Linked DNA regions of Homo sapiens: region 2 is linked to region 1. The links come from fine-mapping of genetic effects on gene expression. A gene starts in region 1. The other region holds a variant in brackets. All regions are shown on one strand. Distances are between the middles of the regions. Region 1 holds the start of TLE1 (TLE family member 1, transcriptional corepressor). Region 2 overlaps TLE1 (TLE family member 1, transcriptional corepressor).

The links. PIP is the estimated chance that this variant, and not a neighbour inherited with it, causes the effect.
Region 2: its variant is fine-mapped to the expression of TLE1 in whole blood (INTERVAL, PIP 0.90).

Annotation. Positions count from the first base shown.
Region 1 is chr9:81,685,180-81,693,509 of GRCh38, reverse strand. TLE1 (TLE family member 1, transcriptional corepressor) reads left to right here and starts at 3,963. Exons shown (of 20, transcript NM_005077.5): 1 at 3,963-5,293; 2 at 6,076-6,176; 3 at 7,614-7,677; 4 at 7,790-7,834. The coding sequence starts at 5,270. It overlaps TLE1-DT (TLE1 divergent transcript), which reads right to left and starts at 3,797. Exons shown (of 4, transcript NR_109772.1): 1 at 3,551-3,797. RefSeq lists silencers at 3,416-3,565, 3,716-4,065 and enhancers at 3,938-4,652, 8,308-8,330.
Region 2 is chr9:81,652,298-81,660,627 of GRCh38, reverse strand. TLE1 (TLE family member 1, transcriptional corepressor) reads left to right here. Exons shown (of 20, transcript NM_005077.5): 5 at 6,592-6,654. Among named protein-coding and RNA genes, the nearest start is that of TLE1, 33 kb to the left of the region's middle. The variant T/CAT (reference allele first, on the strand shown) is at 4,371.

The sequences.
Region 1 (8,330 bases):
TCAATTAAAAAAAAAAAAAGGTGGGGCGGGGTGGCTCACGCTTGTAATCCCGGCACTTTGGGAGGCCAAGGCGGTCGGATCACCTGATGTTAGAAGTTCGAGACCAGCCTGGCCAACATGGTGAAACCCTGTCTCCGCTAAAAATACAAAAATTAGCCGGGCGTGGTGGTACACGCCTGTTATCCCAGCTGCTCAGGAGACTGAGGCACATGAATCGCTTGAACCTCGGAGGCGGAGGTTGCAACGAGCTGAGATCGCACCACTGCACTCCAGCTTGGGTGACAGAGCGAGATGCTGACTCAAAAAAAAAAAAAAAGTCAAATGAGGAAATGTATGAGCAATAATTCTCAGCTAAAAGGAAGAGAACACAACAAAAGTGGTCTGTTAAAAACTATAATTATTGGCCAGGTGTGGTGGTGCATGCCTGTAATCCCAGCACTTTGGGAGGCTGAGGAGGGCGGATCACGAGGTCAGGAGTTTGAGACCAGCCTGGCCAACAAGGCGAAACCCCGTCTATACTAAAAATATAAAAATTAGCCGGGTGTGGTGGCACACGCCTGTAGTCCCAGCTACTGGGGAGGCTGAGGCAGGAGAATCTCGAACCCAAGAGGCAGAGGTTGCAGTGAGCTGAGATGGCACCACTGCACTTCAGCCTGGGAGACAGAGTGAGACTCCGTCTCCAAAAAAAATTAAAAAATTACAATTATTATTTCAAATAAAAAAGTAATAGATTTAAAAGATGTCTAGTTGCTACGATCAGCATCTATAACTTTTCCTATTTTGTTTAGTATCTGTACTAGATAACATCTAGCTTTTGTAATTACTTAGGCTATTGCTGAGTTGAAAATTTGATAATCAGCAACAAATGAATGGGAATATACCCACATATGCATCAAAAGAAAATGAACAAGCTGACAATCTTTCTGTTTCTCTGCAGAGCATAAAAAGGGTACTGTGTTTTTCAGAGAAAATTTCCAGTGGGAGCATCATACATTTCACATAAAAACATCATTGACATATGAATGTTAAAGGTAAAGAAGATTATGGTTAACAGGCTTTAAATGGAAGACCAAAATTATAGATTTCATGAGGAGGACTATTTTCTTTTAAACAGGCTGTAGGCAATCTGCACATATATTATTTATTTAAAACATAAGATTAAAGCTACTTGACTGTTTAAACGCCGTCATTTGTAATGCAGTTTGATGAGAGTTTTGTAGTATAATTATTACAGCATGACAATCGTGGAGAAAATATGACCTTGAAAAGGGCAGAGCCTTCTCCCACTCTGACAGACGATGCTCTAAATGGGAAAAAAAGGCTTCAAAAACCAAAACCAACCATTTTTATGCACACAATTAAAGGCCTTCCAATTTTAAATTCATAATGCTCTGTAGATACTACAGATACTTCATTATAAGGAAATCAGAAGGCCTGGTGTTTCAAACTCTATTGGCAAGGAAAGACTAGTTAAAAGAGAATTTCTAGTGTTTACTCATGGCAAACTGGGAAATATGGTGAGCAGACACATTGTCTGTGAGTAGTTATGTTAGAGAACATTTAAAGATGCCTTAGTACTGATTTTGAGGGCAGCGGGGTGGGGAAAGAAGAGAAGTAGCAACACTTTTGCCCCATCTCAAAGCATATTTTAATGGCTCTGTTTAAACTTAATGGGAGTGTGCCAGTTATTCAAGATACAGGCACCACATAAAGCCTGGGTAAGCCGGGGAGGAATATCAGTTGCTCCAGTTGTCACAGCATGTATACAAGCATACTTGTGGCATCCAAGCACTTTCTGTCCGGTCCTGGAGCTGATTATGGGATGAACTGGCCGCAGACTGGTATATGTGGCTCAATCACTAGATAATTTCAAGGAAAACAGGTTGCTAAAGGCCCTGGGATCCTATGATTCCAAAAAGTCCTGTATGTCGAGCAAAACTGTCATCGTCACCAAATTTAACCAAGGAAAGTGAGGCAGTGCTTTCTTCTTTTTTGTTCTCCATGTTAGCAAAATGAATAATACAGCCGCCTTCCCAACTGTACTTAATGAGAACACCACAAAGCTACAATGCCCAACTTGTTTAAGAATTTACTATGGCTTCGTACAGACTGGTTAAAATCGCTTTTTTATTTTTTCATTTATAATTGATATTTGGGAGTGATGCAATTATAGACAAATCAATATCATACATATTTAAAAACAACTCCAACAGTGAAATGTATTATCTAAAATGACTTCTAAAACTATTTCAAGAAAAAGAACTCTGTAAAAGCACATCTTTAAATAAAATGTATGTCTGTTTAAATAAGCTCCTTCCCGTAAGTCTCTTGAAGGTAAAATAATAAAATAATAACGTGGGGGTTATTAATACCAAAAACTTAACTAGTTTCCAACATAAGATAAATACTTGTCCAAGATGTGCCCTTATGGAAGAAGTTACCACCGTTTGGCTAAACCAGCATTATTCATTCACTGCTCATGTGGAAATGTTCCTCAAACAAAAGCATAAATGCGGCAATACTGACGGTTTTCTGCTGTGTATTTAGAGACATACACAAAAACCAAAGACTCTCAGCATTAATTATACAGCATGTCTTGATTATTACAATCTCAAAATCCCTTTTAACTCAAGTTCCACTTCATAAGAACCTTAGCCACGTCATTTACCTAACTCTTCCCATTTAGCTCTTCACACAGCTCAGCTCAGGAGTACCACCCAGACTGTGGGGGTGGGGTGTGCGGGACAGGTTTTTCAGGTCTCAGTGCTGGTTTATTACATTGTCTCTCTTTGTTCCCAGGAATTGGAAACAGACTCGTAGTCTTGTAGCTGAGAAGTTCCTAAAAACCTCAGCCGCTCCCCACCTCTCCCAACACAGCGAAGTCAGGACTTTTAAGACGAAGACCTGGGATTTCGCGCCCCGGGCAAAACGTCTCATCTGCGGACACGCGTGCCTTGTTCTGGCAGCACCCTGGGAATCCTTCCCGCCAAACGGGACAGGACGATCTTTTTGAAAAGTGGCTTGAAATCCTGCAATAAAAATCAAATCCTACCACTTTGGGTGCAAAGGGGGTGGGTGGGGTGGGAGGACATCACAGTCGTCTTTGCTGGTGTACCTACGCCAACCGTGGCGTTGCTCATTTACGCATTTCCAACTAAGTGCACAGTCCACTCCCTCTCGTACATCCGTAAAAAGGCAGCTCAAGGAAAAACAAACCTCAGATAAATTTTTGAATGTGGCCTCACTTTTAGAGTAGCATCAAACAAGGGGTCCAGCACTGAAAAACACATTTGCTCGAATTACCAAAAGCCCCCCTCCGCCTCCAATAAGAAACTCCGCAGCTAGTCTTTGAGTTACTTTCACTTAGATCTGAGGATTTTCATTAAAGGGAAAAGTGAGCAAGTGGCAGGATTTTTGCTAACTCGAGCCCTCAGCTTCCCCGGCTGCACGCTCGCCAGTCCCTCCCGCTAGCGCGCGCCCGCGCGCTCTCTAGCCAGCCCCACGTTACTTTGATTGACAGCCCAGCCCCGCCGCTCTCCTTCCCACCGACCTTCCCATCATCAGTGCCAATCTCCGCGAATCGCCGCTTCCCATTGGCTGGTTTTGGCGTCCCGCGGCTCCTCCAGGAACAGTTCCTCACCAAGCCCGGGAGGACGCGGCTGGCGGAGGAGGGGCCGGGATGGGAAGGGAGACCGAGGAGACGGCGGAGATGGAAGCGAGAGGAGGGGGGGAGGGAGAACGCCCCGTCCGGCGCTGCGCTGCCATACGCTCCGGGGAGGAGCGCGTCAGCGCCCCACGTTGGTTGCAGCGCACGCGATTGGCTGATGCGGGCCTTCTGCCCCCCCCCCACCCCCCAACCTCCCGGGCTCACGTCCCCCGCCGGCTCCGCGCTCGCGCCCCCCGCCCGAACGGGGCTGGGCGGGGCCGGCGCTGGTTAGCTCCGGAGTGTGAAACCGCGTGTTAATGTAAGCGGCGCGAGAGGCGCGGGCGGCGGCGGCGGTGGGAGCGGCGGCTGCAGAAGCAGCAGCAGCAGAAACAGCGGCGGGTACTCTGTGCCCCGCGTCCCGGAGGCAGCCGACTGCGCCACCCCACCCTCGCACGGCCGGGCGGGACCCGCGCCACCAGCCCGGACCTCCGTCGTCCCGCGGCGACCAAAACCCCCGCTGGCCCCACCGCTGTGACTACTCTGGACTCGCCCGCAGAGTTTGCCCGCCGGGGAGGGTGGCCGATTGGCGGAGCGCACTCCTGCTGTTTTCCCCACCATCTCGTGGATGTCGTCCCTCGGGTGGTGAGAGAACTTTGCAGTGGGCTGGAGCGCCCTTTGCGGAGAAGCACACGAAGGTGAAGGAAGGAAAGAAAGAAGACCGAGGAAGAAGGAGCTCGGAAGAAGGGTCCGGAGCGGCCGGTCCGGCCGTGCAGGGCGAGTGCGCCCGAGGCGCGGCGCCCTGATGCTCCCCGGGCTCGAGGAGCATTGGGCACTTGCGGGACTGCTCTCGGTGGAGTAGCCCCGTCGGGCCCGGAGGGTTTGTGCAACCGCGGAGAACACCGAGTGCTGGTCGCACGGGGCGTGCCGAGCCGCCTCCCGGCGCGCCCTCCGCACTTTCCCCGCCTCGTCATCCGTCGCTCCCCGGCCAGGAGCCTCCGCTGCGTCTTCAACCTCGCTCCCCTTTGCGTCCCGGGAGCCTGCGAGCACCCGGCCGAAGGCGCAGCCGAATCTTGCGGGAGTCGCCCCGAAAGCGTCGGGTTTGTGTGGGGTTAGCGGGGGCCGCCGCGCCACCTGCACCTCGCCCGCCGCCGCCTCGGGGAAAGCCCGAAGAGGAGGCGGACCAGGAGAAGAGCAAAGAAAAGCAGTCCGTCTGGATTTGTTTGCCCAGGACTGGCGCCGCGCACGCGGATCGCCGAGGGGAGTGCGGTCGGAGTCACCGCGCCCCCGCCTCCCCGCCCGGGCAGCTGAGGCCGGGGGTTGGAGCGCTGCCCCCGCGCACAGTCCCCGAGCGCCCGACGTCTCCGCGCAGGTTCTTGAAGCAGCTGGGCCTGGGGCGCCCACTAATGTGGCCCTGAGGGCCGGAGCCCGCACCGACGGGAGCGGGAGCCGGAGCAGCTGCGGGCGCCGAGTGGCCGGTGCGCCCGGCGGAGCGCGCGTGCGTGGCCAGCGCGCTCCCCGCTTCTGCTTGGCTTTCCGGCTTAATTTTCCTCGGCGGGATTAAAGTTGGAAATTGACCGGAGAATTGAGTTGCCGGGGAACAGAGCCCCGGCCGCCGCCAGAGCGATGTTCCCGCAGAGCCGGCACCCGGTGAGGCGCGGCTGGGTGGTGGTGGGGGGCCAGGATCGTTGGGGAGGCGCTTCTCCCGGGCGGTAGGGAGACTGGTGGCTTCTGAGGCCCGGCGGACCTTCTCGCCCTCAGCGGTGTAAGGCTGGGGAGGTCTGGGGCCCTCTCTTCCTGGGGTGGGGAGTGGGCCGAAACTCTTAATTTTCTCCCTCCCTTTGGGCTCCTTCCTACTTGACGTCTATACCGAGCGGACAGGGGCGCTGGGGAAGGCTGGGGTTTCTCTCCTGCAGCCATATCCCCTCTACCTTCCCCGAGTGGGGGCAGGGCGCCCCCCCCTTTGTTTCTCCTCTCGCCTATTTACATGTCAATGCGGCCCCGGTTCCGGTGCGTCTGGAGGTGGCCCCGGCGACTCTGGGAATGGGGAGCGTAAAGGAGTTGTTTTTCTCCTCTGGTCCCCGGGGTCATTATCGCCGCCGTGGGGGAAGGGGCGGCGACACCGACAATCTGGCCTGGTCTTCCCTGGCCGCCGGGGAGCCCCCTTCCCTTTGGCCTGGTGACCCGGGCGCACTTAGCGCAATCCGCCCTGGAGACTGGGAAGAGCTTCCGAGCCTCTTTAGAAGCCGGGGCCCGGGGAGGGTCCGCTTTCCCCCTCCCCATAGTGAAGGGCAAACTCGAGTTTGGGGCCTCGTTTTCAGCCACTTCTAACTTTATGTTTATGTCCCACCCGTTCTTGCCTTCTCTGACTTACTGCTTTATTCATCCGCCCGCATTCCCGTCCCTCGGTCCCCCTCGCTGGTCGCCCCCAGACGCCGCACCAGGCTGCAGGCCAGCCCTTCAAGTTCACTATCCCGGAGTCCCTGGACCGGATTAAAGAGGAATTCCAGTTCCTGCAGGCGCAGTATCACAGGTGCGTGTCCGGCCGCGCCATGCGAGTGGTCGCGGGCGTCCCGGTGCCCCTTGCACCCAGCCGGGTGGCGGCGGCGCCTGTACTTAGTTCTTGCGTCCAGGCGGTGGCGTGTGGAGTCTCAGTTAAGACCTGTCATTCAAGTTACCCCCTTTCCTGGTTCTTCCCGGGCCGCCTCTTCTCTTGTCTCCTCCTCCTCCCATTGTTTCCCTTTTGCCGGTTTGCACTGTTCCAGGGAGTCCTTTTTCATGTCTTTAGGAGTTGCATGAGAATCGTCAATATTTGCACTTCATGTATTTATTTTTCAGCAGACTGAGCTGAAACATTGGTTCAATCGATGTCTCAGTCCTGGAGTGTGGGTTCAGGGAAGCAAAGCCATGTTGAAATCGCTGTTTGCCATACTAGAAAATTGGGTTTTCTGAGGCAAAGTCCATTAAGGAAGGCTAGATGCTTATAACATTGCCCATCATTGGTGATGGTGAGGGAGGTGGGTATAATAGTATAAAGAAGAAAGCTCACCTGCTTTGGCGTCATTTCGGATTGGTTTGGGTAGGATGAGAGAGTGGAGTCACATTTATATCCATCTCAGCCTTAGTTTCTTCAAGTAATGAGACTTACCTTCAAAGGACTTATAAATTTTTGTAAAATACTTTGCCAATAGTGAACTTCCCAGAAAGGTTAGTTTCTTTCCCTTGTTCCTATGAAGTTTTACCTGATTCTAACTCAGAAATAACTGTATTGACATTTTTTGCTTTTGTCATGCTTGAGAAAAAGCACACAGATGAGGCGAAGTGGCTTGGGTGTGAATTTTCTTACTTTGTCAGGGGCTTTCTCATTATTGACCTTTTGTCTACTTGTAGATAATATCTCTGCAGCTTGAGGCATACTTGCACACACCGTGTTTACCCAGCAGGGAGAACTTCAACCCACTTTATTGCAGTAGCTACTTGACATATTTTGGCAGGGATTTAAAAACCAAAGGTTTTGAAAGGGACCAGCAATTGTAGGAGTAACTTAACAGATAGGATTTTCAAACCTAGAGACCGTTTGAGTTGGCAAAGATGGCACAGCCTATGCCTAAGAGTGAAGATTGTGCAAGGGCCGGATTTTGGTGGAGTACAGAGAAACAAACTGATGCAGGAAGGTAGGGAGCAGATGACCATGAGGAGGAATCAGTTAGAGGTTCTGACAGATTTTTTTCATTCTTGTCATCTAACCAGATAGGCACCAAGAAGAATGGTAGCTGAATGGACACCTTGTATTGTTCACATTATTCCTTTTCCCTATTAAATGCAAGGACAAAGCTTTTGGGTGTTTACCTAGATAGTTTATGGCTTTTCCAAATTGGTCTGTGTTTTTACTTGAAGTGCAAATATGTGAGGCAGATGTTAAAACAAGTGACATAATGTTTACATTAAGTTGCCTGTTTTGTTTTCCTAGCCTTAAATTGGAATGTGAGAAACTGGCAAGTGAAAAGACAGAAATGCAGAGGCACTATGTGATGGTAGGTATCAAAGATTGGACTTTTTCCTTTTTCATATGATATTAGCAAACGTGTTAGCAGAGTGTAAAAAACATGAGTTAATGAAATGCTTGATTCTTTTTTCTCTTTACAGTATTATGAAATGTCATATGGATTAAACATTGAAATGCACAAACAGGTAAGCTTTAGTTGAACTTCAAGCTGAAATGAGACATCAGTTCATATGATTTAATAATACTGGCTTTGTTCTCAGTAGTGGGCTCTAGGGGTGGGGGTTTGTATGCTATTTTTCTGCCTTGGTTTCCTGTCCTGTGGATTGATGGTAGTATTCTGCATCAAGGGTTGCTTCTTGATAATTACAAGTGTTTAAATGACTAGGAGAGGGAGAGGTGTTTTGGAAATATAAACTAGCCTCTTTATTGACAGATAGGAATTAAGACTTGAGTTTACTTTTTCACCTGTATAGATTTATCCTCTTGAAAGGGCTGGGTATCTTCTACAGTTGCTGAAGTTTAGAATAGTTAATGTTTTTGTGCTGTTTTGCAAGGAAGTGTGGACCTGTTGGGGGGAAAGAAGGGTATTCAGGAGTTTTTTTTAATCGTGGTAATCAAGGTATATGACTATCTGTGGAGTATTCTTTATGCTTTGGGGCTGCATGAAGCAATAGTCAGGAT
Region 2 (8,330 bases), 33 kb after region 1:
TGGCTAACACAGTGAAACCCCGTCTCTACTAAAAATACAAAAAAAAATTAGCCGGGTGTGGTAGCAGGCACCTGTAGTCCCAGCTACTCAGGAGGCTGAGGCAGGAGAATGGCATGAACCCAGGAGGCATAGCTTGCAGTGAGCCGAGATCGCGCCACTGCTCTCCAGCTTGGGCGACAGAACGAGACTCTGTCTCAAAAAATAATAATAATAAAATAAAAAAATAAAACCATACATGTACATGAATTTTATACTTACCAACGTATGATTTTGTTTTTTTTTTTTTGTGAACAGCCTTTGTCTAGCACTGTTTAGTAATGGTTTATCTGGTTGCACCTTGGCCATTGAATTTAGGGGTGCATGGAGATTAAGTTTTGGTTCATTGAGGCATGACTTTGAAAGTATATTAAATATGTACCCTGGCATCAGTTTTAGTAGGGGAGGTACGGCAAAGAAATGTGTCACAGTATTTAGTAGGAGTCGTGTTCTCGTAATGCTTCCCATCTTGTTGTGTTGAGAAGGCTTTTAGGTAGAAAGCTGTTAAGAAACTGTATGGAAGCTTTCTTTGTATGACATGGTGATTTTTAAGCACATAGGTTTAGTTTACCAAATGACAGTAAGTGCTGTGGAGGATCTTGAAGGGCCTAGAGAAGAGTGCGTTTATTGGCGTTATGGGGGAAAGGCAGCTTCTCAGTGAATTTGAGGCAGGCCTTGAGGGATTGGGAAGATCTCTCATATTTGTACAGCACTTTGGAATAGTATACCTTACATACCAGCTCATCAGCTCACTCGATTTTGATGAAACTCTCAAGTAGATTGGTGGTAATCCTGTTAAGTACGAGACCTGGTTGGGACCCAGTGGTTTAAGTGATTTAACATAGAACCCCTAGCAGTAGTTTGCCAAGATGCAAACCCTAATTTTTGGATGATGAGGGCTAACTGTATTACCATATGCAAATCAGTGAGGAGAGTTGGCATAGGTAAGGAGAATGAAAGACTGTTGTAGACAGGTAATTTGGACTCCTGCTTCCTCCTGCCTCAGTAGGTGGTGGCCATCCATGAAGAAAGTCTTGTTGCTGGAGCCTTCATCCTGCTGCTTACATTTCTGAGTGGAGGGTTTCATGCAGATTTGGTTTGTGGATAGCTCTTGAATGCAGATTTATTGTTGTTGCCTTACACAGTATTAAAAAATCTAGGCACAGGGAAAGTTTATAAGCATTATGACTTAGTGGGTACCAAATAGGTATTCATCATTGGGTAGGAAAATTATTTCTAGGTGGGAAATACAGTTAGCCCTCAGTTTTTCACTGGAGTTGTCTAGCCTTTGCAAGAGGTGGAAGGCAGCAGGGTCAAATACCCAGGTTAACCTGCCAGCACACTCCAATCAAGAATAGAAGCATGGGCAGGAGTCACTACGAGAGGCCAGGCGCGGTGGCTCACGCCTGTAATCCCACCACTTTGGGAGGCTGAGGTGGGCGGATCACGAGGATCAGGAGATCGAGACCATCCTGGCCAACATGGTGAAACCCCATCTCTACTAAAAATAGAAAAATTAGCCAGGTGTGGTGGCGCGTGCCTGTCATCCCAGCTACTCGCGAGGCTGAGGAAGGAGAATTGCTTTAACCAGGGAGTCGGAGGTTGCAGTGAGCTAAGATGGCTCCACTGTACTCCAGCCTGGTGACAGAGCAAGACTCCATCTAAAAAAAAAATAAATAAATAGATAAATAAATACATAAATAAAATAAAGTCACTACGAGACTTGTTAATTTGTGCTAAATTAAGAATCTTACCAGAATACCCTTTTGTTGAAGCAAGAGATAATACTAAGAATTATTGCCAGTTTGTATGCTGCTGCAATCCAGACTATTTGAAGGGAAGATGTTCATGAAGTCCTCTTGGAGAGCTAGTGATGTTTTAGGACTCACAGAGCATTGTTGGGTAAGCTGTGTACCCTCACCTGCCAGGAGGTAGGTTGTGCAGGTGAAGGAGCCAGGGTATTTCAGAGGACGTCAGCGCCTTTTCTGGGGTAAACCAGCTTGTTAATAGAACAGTCCAAGACTTGGATTTAGATTTTCTGGCTCAAAAGTCAAGCTGGCTTGTCAGTATAGTTTAAGATTAGGGTTTAGAGACCTGGCAGACGGAGGGGAAGTCTTGGGTAAGACTCTCCTCTATTGCTCCTATTTGCTTCTTCTCCAGACCATTTATGTAGAATTTCCAGGACATATGGTATGGCTTTCGATGTTTTTCATCAGTTTGAGCTTTGATTTCTAACTTTTCTCCTCCTGTTTCAGGCTTATCCAGTCTAACCCAACTTACATAGTACAGTCGGCCCTTTGTATCTGTGGGTTCTGCATCTGTGAATTCAGCTAACCATGGTTTGAAAATACTTTTTTTTAAAAAACATTGCATCGGCCAGGCACAGTGGCTCATGCTAGGATTATAAATCCTAGCACTTTGGGAGGCTGAGGCAGGTGGATCACTTGAGGTCAGGAGTTTAAAATCAGCCTGTTCTACATGGTGAAACCCCGTCTTTACTAAAAATACAAAAAATTAGCCGGGCATGGTGGCACGTGCCTGTAATCCCAGCTACTTGGGAGGCTGAGGCAGGAGAGTTCCTTAGAACCCGGGAGGTGGAGGTTGCAGTGAGCCAAGACTGTGCCACTGCACTCCAGCCTAGGTGACAGAGCGAGACTCTGTCTTAAAAAAAAAAAAAAAAAAAAAAATTATGTCTGTAGTGAACATGTACAGACTTTTTTCTTGTCATTATTTCCTAAATAATACAACAACCATTTACCTAGGATTTACATTGTATTAGGTATTTTAAGTAATCTGGAGATGATTTAAAGTGTATGGGTAGATGTGCATAGGTTATATGCAAATACACCATTTTATATAAAGGACTTGAGCATCCTTAGATTTTGGTTTCCATGGGGGATTCTGAACCAATCCCTCACAGATACCGAGAGACCACTGTATTCATTGCCTTTGCTTTCATATGTCTTTCTTTTCTTTATTTTATTTTTGATAACTTTAATATTATTAAAGGTTTACAAGTTCATTTCATTCAGACTGGATCTTAACTGTCCTCCGACCATGTTCAAGTCTACTTTGATGCCATTCTAGGTAGTAACACATAGTTGCTATCATAGTTAAAGATGAGGGCATCTTTTCTTAAACCAAAATAAATTCCAGTTAAATAGTTAAGCATAAAAAGTGCAGCCATAGCACACTAGAAGAAAAGTAAGAATGGCTTTTATGATATTGATGTGTTCTAATCTTTACCTAAAGGCCAGGAGCATAGGAAGAAAATGCTTTCATTTGACCACATAAAGACTTAAAGTTCTATACAGCAAAAAAATCATATTAAGCAAGGTTGAAAGACAAGTGGCAAGCTGAGCAAACTCTGATAAAGGGTTAATATTTGTCCCATTCAAGGAAGCACCACCAAAGGACAAAAATGATTAAGCAACAATGGAAGAATGGAGAAAGGAAACATAGAGTGGAGCAATAAATACATGAAAAGATGTTTAACTAGAGGAAGAATTCAAGTAATGCAAATAAAAATGAGGTCATTTTTTAATCCATTAGATGGATGAAGATTAAAGGAAGGTCAACAAAACTCAATATTGACACTGGGTGGGAGAGCAGGAACCCTCCTAAACTCGCAATAATTGGTACAGCTTTTCTGCTGGGCAGTTTGGCAGCATGCATTGCAACTTAAAATATGCATACACTTTGACCCAGCAGTTTCACATCTAGGGATTCCTTTTAGAGATCTGTGTGGAGGCGTATTTGACAGAGTTGTTAATTGTGCAAAATTAAATGAAACATAAATATTCACTGGTGTCAATAGTACTTAGACATCTATATGCTTGTATGGTGGAATGTTTCAAGGTACTTGTTAATCTGTATTGACTGGGATGGTGTCCCTGACACATGTTTGATTAACAAATTATAGAAAGGCAGGGTATGTAACGGAAACCCCTTGGTATTAAAATGTGTCTCTCACTCTGGGCTTCTGTGCACATAAGTGAGAACCTGGAATGATGGTATCCTAAAATCACCAATATGTTACCCATGCTTATCCTTGGATGATGGGCTCAGGGTTATTTTAACTTTCTTTTATATTTCTGTATATGTATCTGTGTGCATGTGTATGAGTTCAAAGTGAGCATATATCATTTTTAAAACTGGAAACCTTCAATGTGAATTTCCGAGAAGAGGAATGTACAGAGTGTTGCAGGAATGTGTGGTAGGTAGGGAGTTGGGAGCAAGGACCTAAGTAGGATACCTACCAAAGGCATCTCTACTCCTTTACATGCACTCAAATAGACAGTGCAGAACCCTGTTGCAAAGGAAAGCCTTGCCCA[T/CAT]GCTTTCGAGGAGAGCCATGACCTTGAGGTAGCTTGAGTGGGTGGCTGTGATCAAATGAACTGGGTGGGGCTGACCCAGTTCTGTTTTTGTACCTGGTACAGCTGCACCCTTTTTGCATATATCTGCCTCGCTGGCTAAAGCAAGGTCATGCACGGGCTTCCTCTCTCTACCAGTCATTTCCCCTTCTAGTACATTTTGTCCAAGGCATGGTCTGTCTGTAACCTTGTCTCATTGGTGGTCAGGGAGAATTGGGTTGGGTCAGACTAAATCCAATCTTATAAAACCAAAGACTTTGCTTAGTTAATTCAGATCATCTTAGAAGATACAAGGCTGCTGTTTTTTATATGCTTGATTGTAAAGTTCCTGGGGTTTTGTTCTTTTCTTTTCTTTTTTTTTTTTTTTTTGAGACAGGGTCTTGCTCTGTCGCCTTGGCTGGAGTATAGTGGCGCGATCTCAGCTCACCGCAGGCTCGACTTTGTTCCTGGGATTTCTACTTTGTCTTTTTCCATTCTCTATTTCTCAAGGTCATGGACTGCGTGCTTTTAAGTTTTTTTCTTGTGATCCTTTTCATTGCTTAATTCAGTAATATAGGTGGCATTTAGTAAGCATTGACAAAATGATGAAATAAGTAAGGTCAAGGATGGGCCTCTTTACAGATGACTTTTTTTTTCTTTTTTAAAAAAGCAGAACTGGTTCTTCCTAGGTAGAGGAAAGCAGAGCTGCTTTGCATTGCTGTAGGGTGTTGGAGGTGCTGCAGGTGGACCCTTCCCTGGGCTAGAAGTAGAGTACCCTCTGTTCCCTCTCTTGCCAGTTTTTGTCCCTTGTAGCAGAGGGACTGCTGTGGATGTGGAGCGGAGCAAAGGTTTTTCCAGCCTTCTTTATTTTTTTTATTTTTTGAGGTGGAGTCTCACTGTCGCACAGGCTGGAGTGCAGTGGCGTGATCTCGGCTCACTGCAGCCTGCACCTCCCTCGTTCAAGCAGTTCTCTGCCGCAGCCTCCCGAGTAGCTGGTATTACAGGCGCCCACCATCACGCCCGGCTAATTTTTGTATTTTGAGTAGAGACGGGGTTTCACCATCTTGGCTAGGCTGGTCTTGAACTCCTGACCTCATAATCCACATGCCTTGGCCTCAGAAAGTGCTGGGATTACAGGCGCGAGCCACCGCACCCGGCCTTTCCTGCCTTCTTTAAAACAGCCCGTGCTATAGACACTAAGGACACCTTTTATTATGTTCAGCTGACCCCTGGGCCCTGTCGGTGAGGTCTTTGAGTTTGTTACTGAACTGTGGCGAAACTTTCCGAATACTCAGGATATCATGACTTGACCATCACCCTCTAGACTGGAATGTTTTTAGTCATGTTTTCTTGGTTTGTTTGAAAGTTTGAGACTTAGGGAAGCTATGAACAATAAAATCCTTTTTCAGTTGTACAAGAGCTGGGACAAGTGGCAAAGAGGTCAGCAGGCCTTTCTTCTACTCTATCACCTTAGGCCTCATCTTTGAAAGGTGGACTGCTTTGACAGTGCTGCAGCTGCAGTGGCTTCTGACACCCGCTTGAATGAACTTGCAATAATGACATAAATGTGTCATGGTGTGCCATCATTGAAAAAGTACACTTGGCTGGGTGCAGTGGCTCACGCCTGTAATCCCAGCACTTTGGGAGGCCGAGGCGGGCGGATCACGAGGTCAGGAGATCGAGACCATCCTGGCTAACACGGTGAAACCCCACCTCTACTAAAAATAGAAAAAAATTAGCCGGGAGTGGTGGCGGGCGCCTGTAGTCCCAGCTACTTGGGAGGCTGAGGCAGGAGAAGGGTGTGAACCCGGGAGGCAGAGCTTGTGGTGAGCCGAGATCGTGCCACTGCACTCCAGCCTGGGCGACAGAGCAAGACTCTGTCTCAAAAATACATATATATATGTGTATATATATATAGTCACCATATTAAATGATCATATAGCCTTAAACCGCCTAGATTTTCCAACTCAATCAAACTACTCATCTCTTATTACAATGAAGTGTGCAGTTGTGGCTTACTTTGCAAGTGGGATTAATATCTACTGTTTATTTCAAGATAAGTATTAGTAACATAACCTGGGGAAACCATTTTATACACATTTCCAGAGCAAGGGAGAGGAGGACTGAAGTGTTAGGGGTATGAAGTTTTACCTTTCTGAACTGATTGTGAAGTATTCTAAACATTTGTGTGGCTTTGTCTTTATAGACTGAAATCGCCAAGAGATTGAATACGATTTGTGCACAAGTCATCCCATTTCTGTCTCAGGAAGTAAGTAAAATTGTTCAGCTGTTAAAGTGCAATTATGTTGCTTCTCTGTTTGCAAATTAGCTAGTTTTAAGATGTTAATTTTATCACAAGGAACAAGTGTGAAGAACATCTGTTACAGCTGAAGTGTGTAAACCCCCTGCTAGTCTATCCAACACATCTGAGGGCACACTGTAGAAATGGTGACAATAGCTCAACCCCCAAATTAATTTTTTTTCCTGTGGAAAACTGCAAAATGACTATCCAATGTACAGCTTTTGCTTTAAGTAGCATAAGCTTGAGAGCTACTGAAAATTCAGGTGTCTTTTATATCTTTTAAATAGAAAGCTGTTCTCATACTGACTTTTAAAAATGGTTCCATCAAGGTAGACTTTACTATGGAGGCAGATAGTTCTTTTGTACTTATGTATCAAGGCAGTTGTCTTAATGCTGTCCTTGAAGGGGTGGATGATAATAGTCCAAAATACATTAACTTAATGAGTCATATGTATGTATAAGCTATTTTGTTTAGTTACAAAGTCATAGAGGTTTAATCTTAACATTCTTTGAGGGAGGAATCTCTTTATATGAGTAATCTATGAAACTGACTCAAGACTATTGTATTTTAGCTTTGCCTTGAAAAGTTTACCTTCCTTCTGGATATAAGCTAGTAAATGCTGTAACGTGTTCTAAGTGTGCACGGGATGAATGCATCTTCACGCAGGGTGGAAAGTTTATTGGACTAGGAGTTGGAATACTGGGTATCCTGGTTGGCACCTGTTGCTCCATGCCGGATGGTCACCATCTCATTATTGTTGTAACAGCCTCTTCCACCATAACCTTTGTCTGTCTGATATGACAATAGATTTGTCTGCCTTTTGAGTATATCAGTAGTTGTTAGACTTTAGTGATCCACGGCTCTATGTTACATTCTCATGCCTCCCAAAGTAAATTTATGGCTTTGTTTTTATTTGTGGGTGGAGTTGGGAGTTGGGAGGTGTGGGGTGAGTTTCCATCTCTGAATTGAGGCTGGAGTCCTTCCTTTGCCTTGTGGAGGGTAAAGAATCAAAAGGCTATAAAAGAATGAGAGGAATTCCAGGAGTTTCCGAAAATGACTGGTGGGTCAAGATTGGTTGATCAGACAAGTGATCAACCAATCAACGGATTTAATATTAAAGTTTTAGGTATTAAAATGGGTATTTTATTTATTTATTTTAAAAATAGAGACAGGGTTCTGCCATGTTGCCCATGCTGGTCTTGAACTCCTGGGCTCACCCTGTCTTGGCCTCCCAAAGTGCTGGGATTACAGGCATGAGCCATTGCATCTGGCTGTAAAATGCATATTTTAAAATTGCTGTAAACTTATGAACCCCTTTTGTGAACAAGGGTGATCTTCCAAATTCTGTTCTATTTATTTTTTAAGGTCCTATGTTATCATTCTTTATGTCCTTTTTTGTTTTCTACCATTCCAAGCCGAAATTTACAGCCAGAAGTAGTGACTGGTGTTGTTTAGAAATAAAGGGCAGCGCCATTCTCAGTTTTTCTTTCCCTATCTATGTTCTGTGAAAATAAAGTGTGGTTGAGAAATTCTGCATTTAAACCCTTCTACTTCAGCCTGCATTGCACACAGCATTTGACTTTTTGTTGTTAGAATATACAGTGAAGTTTTTGGCTGTTGCTAATGCCCTTTCTTCTCCTTG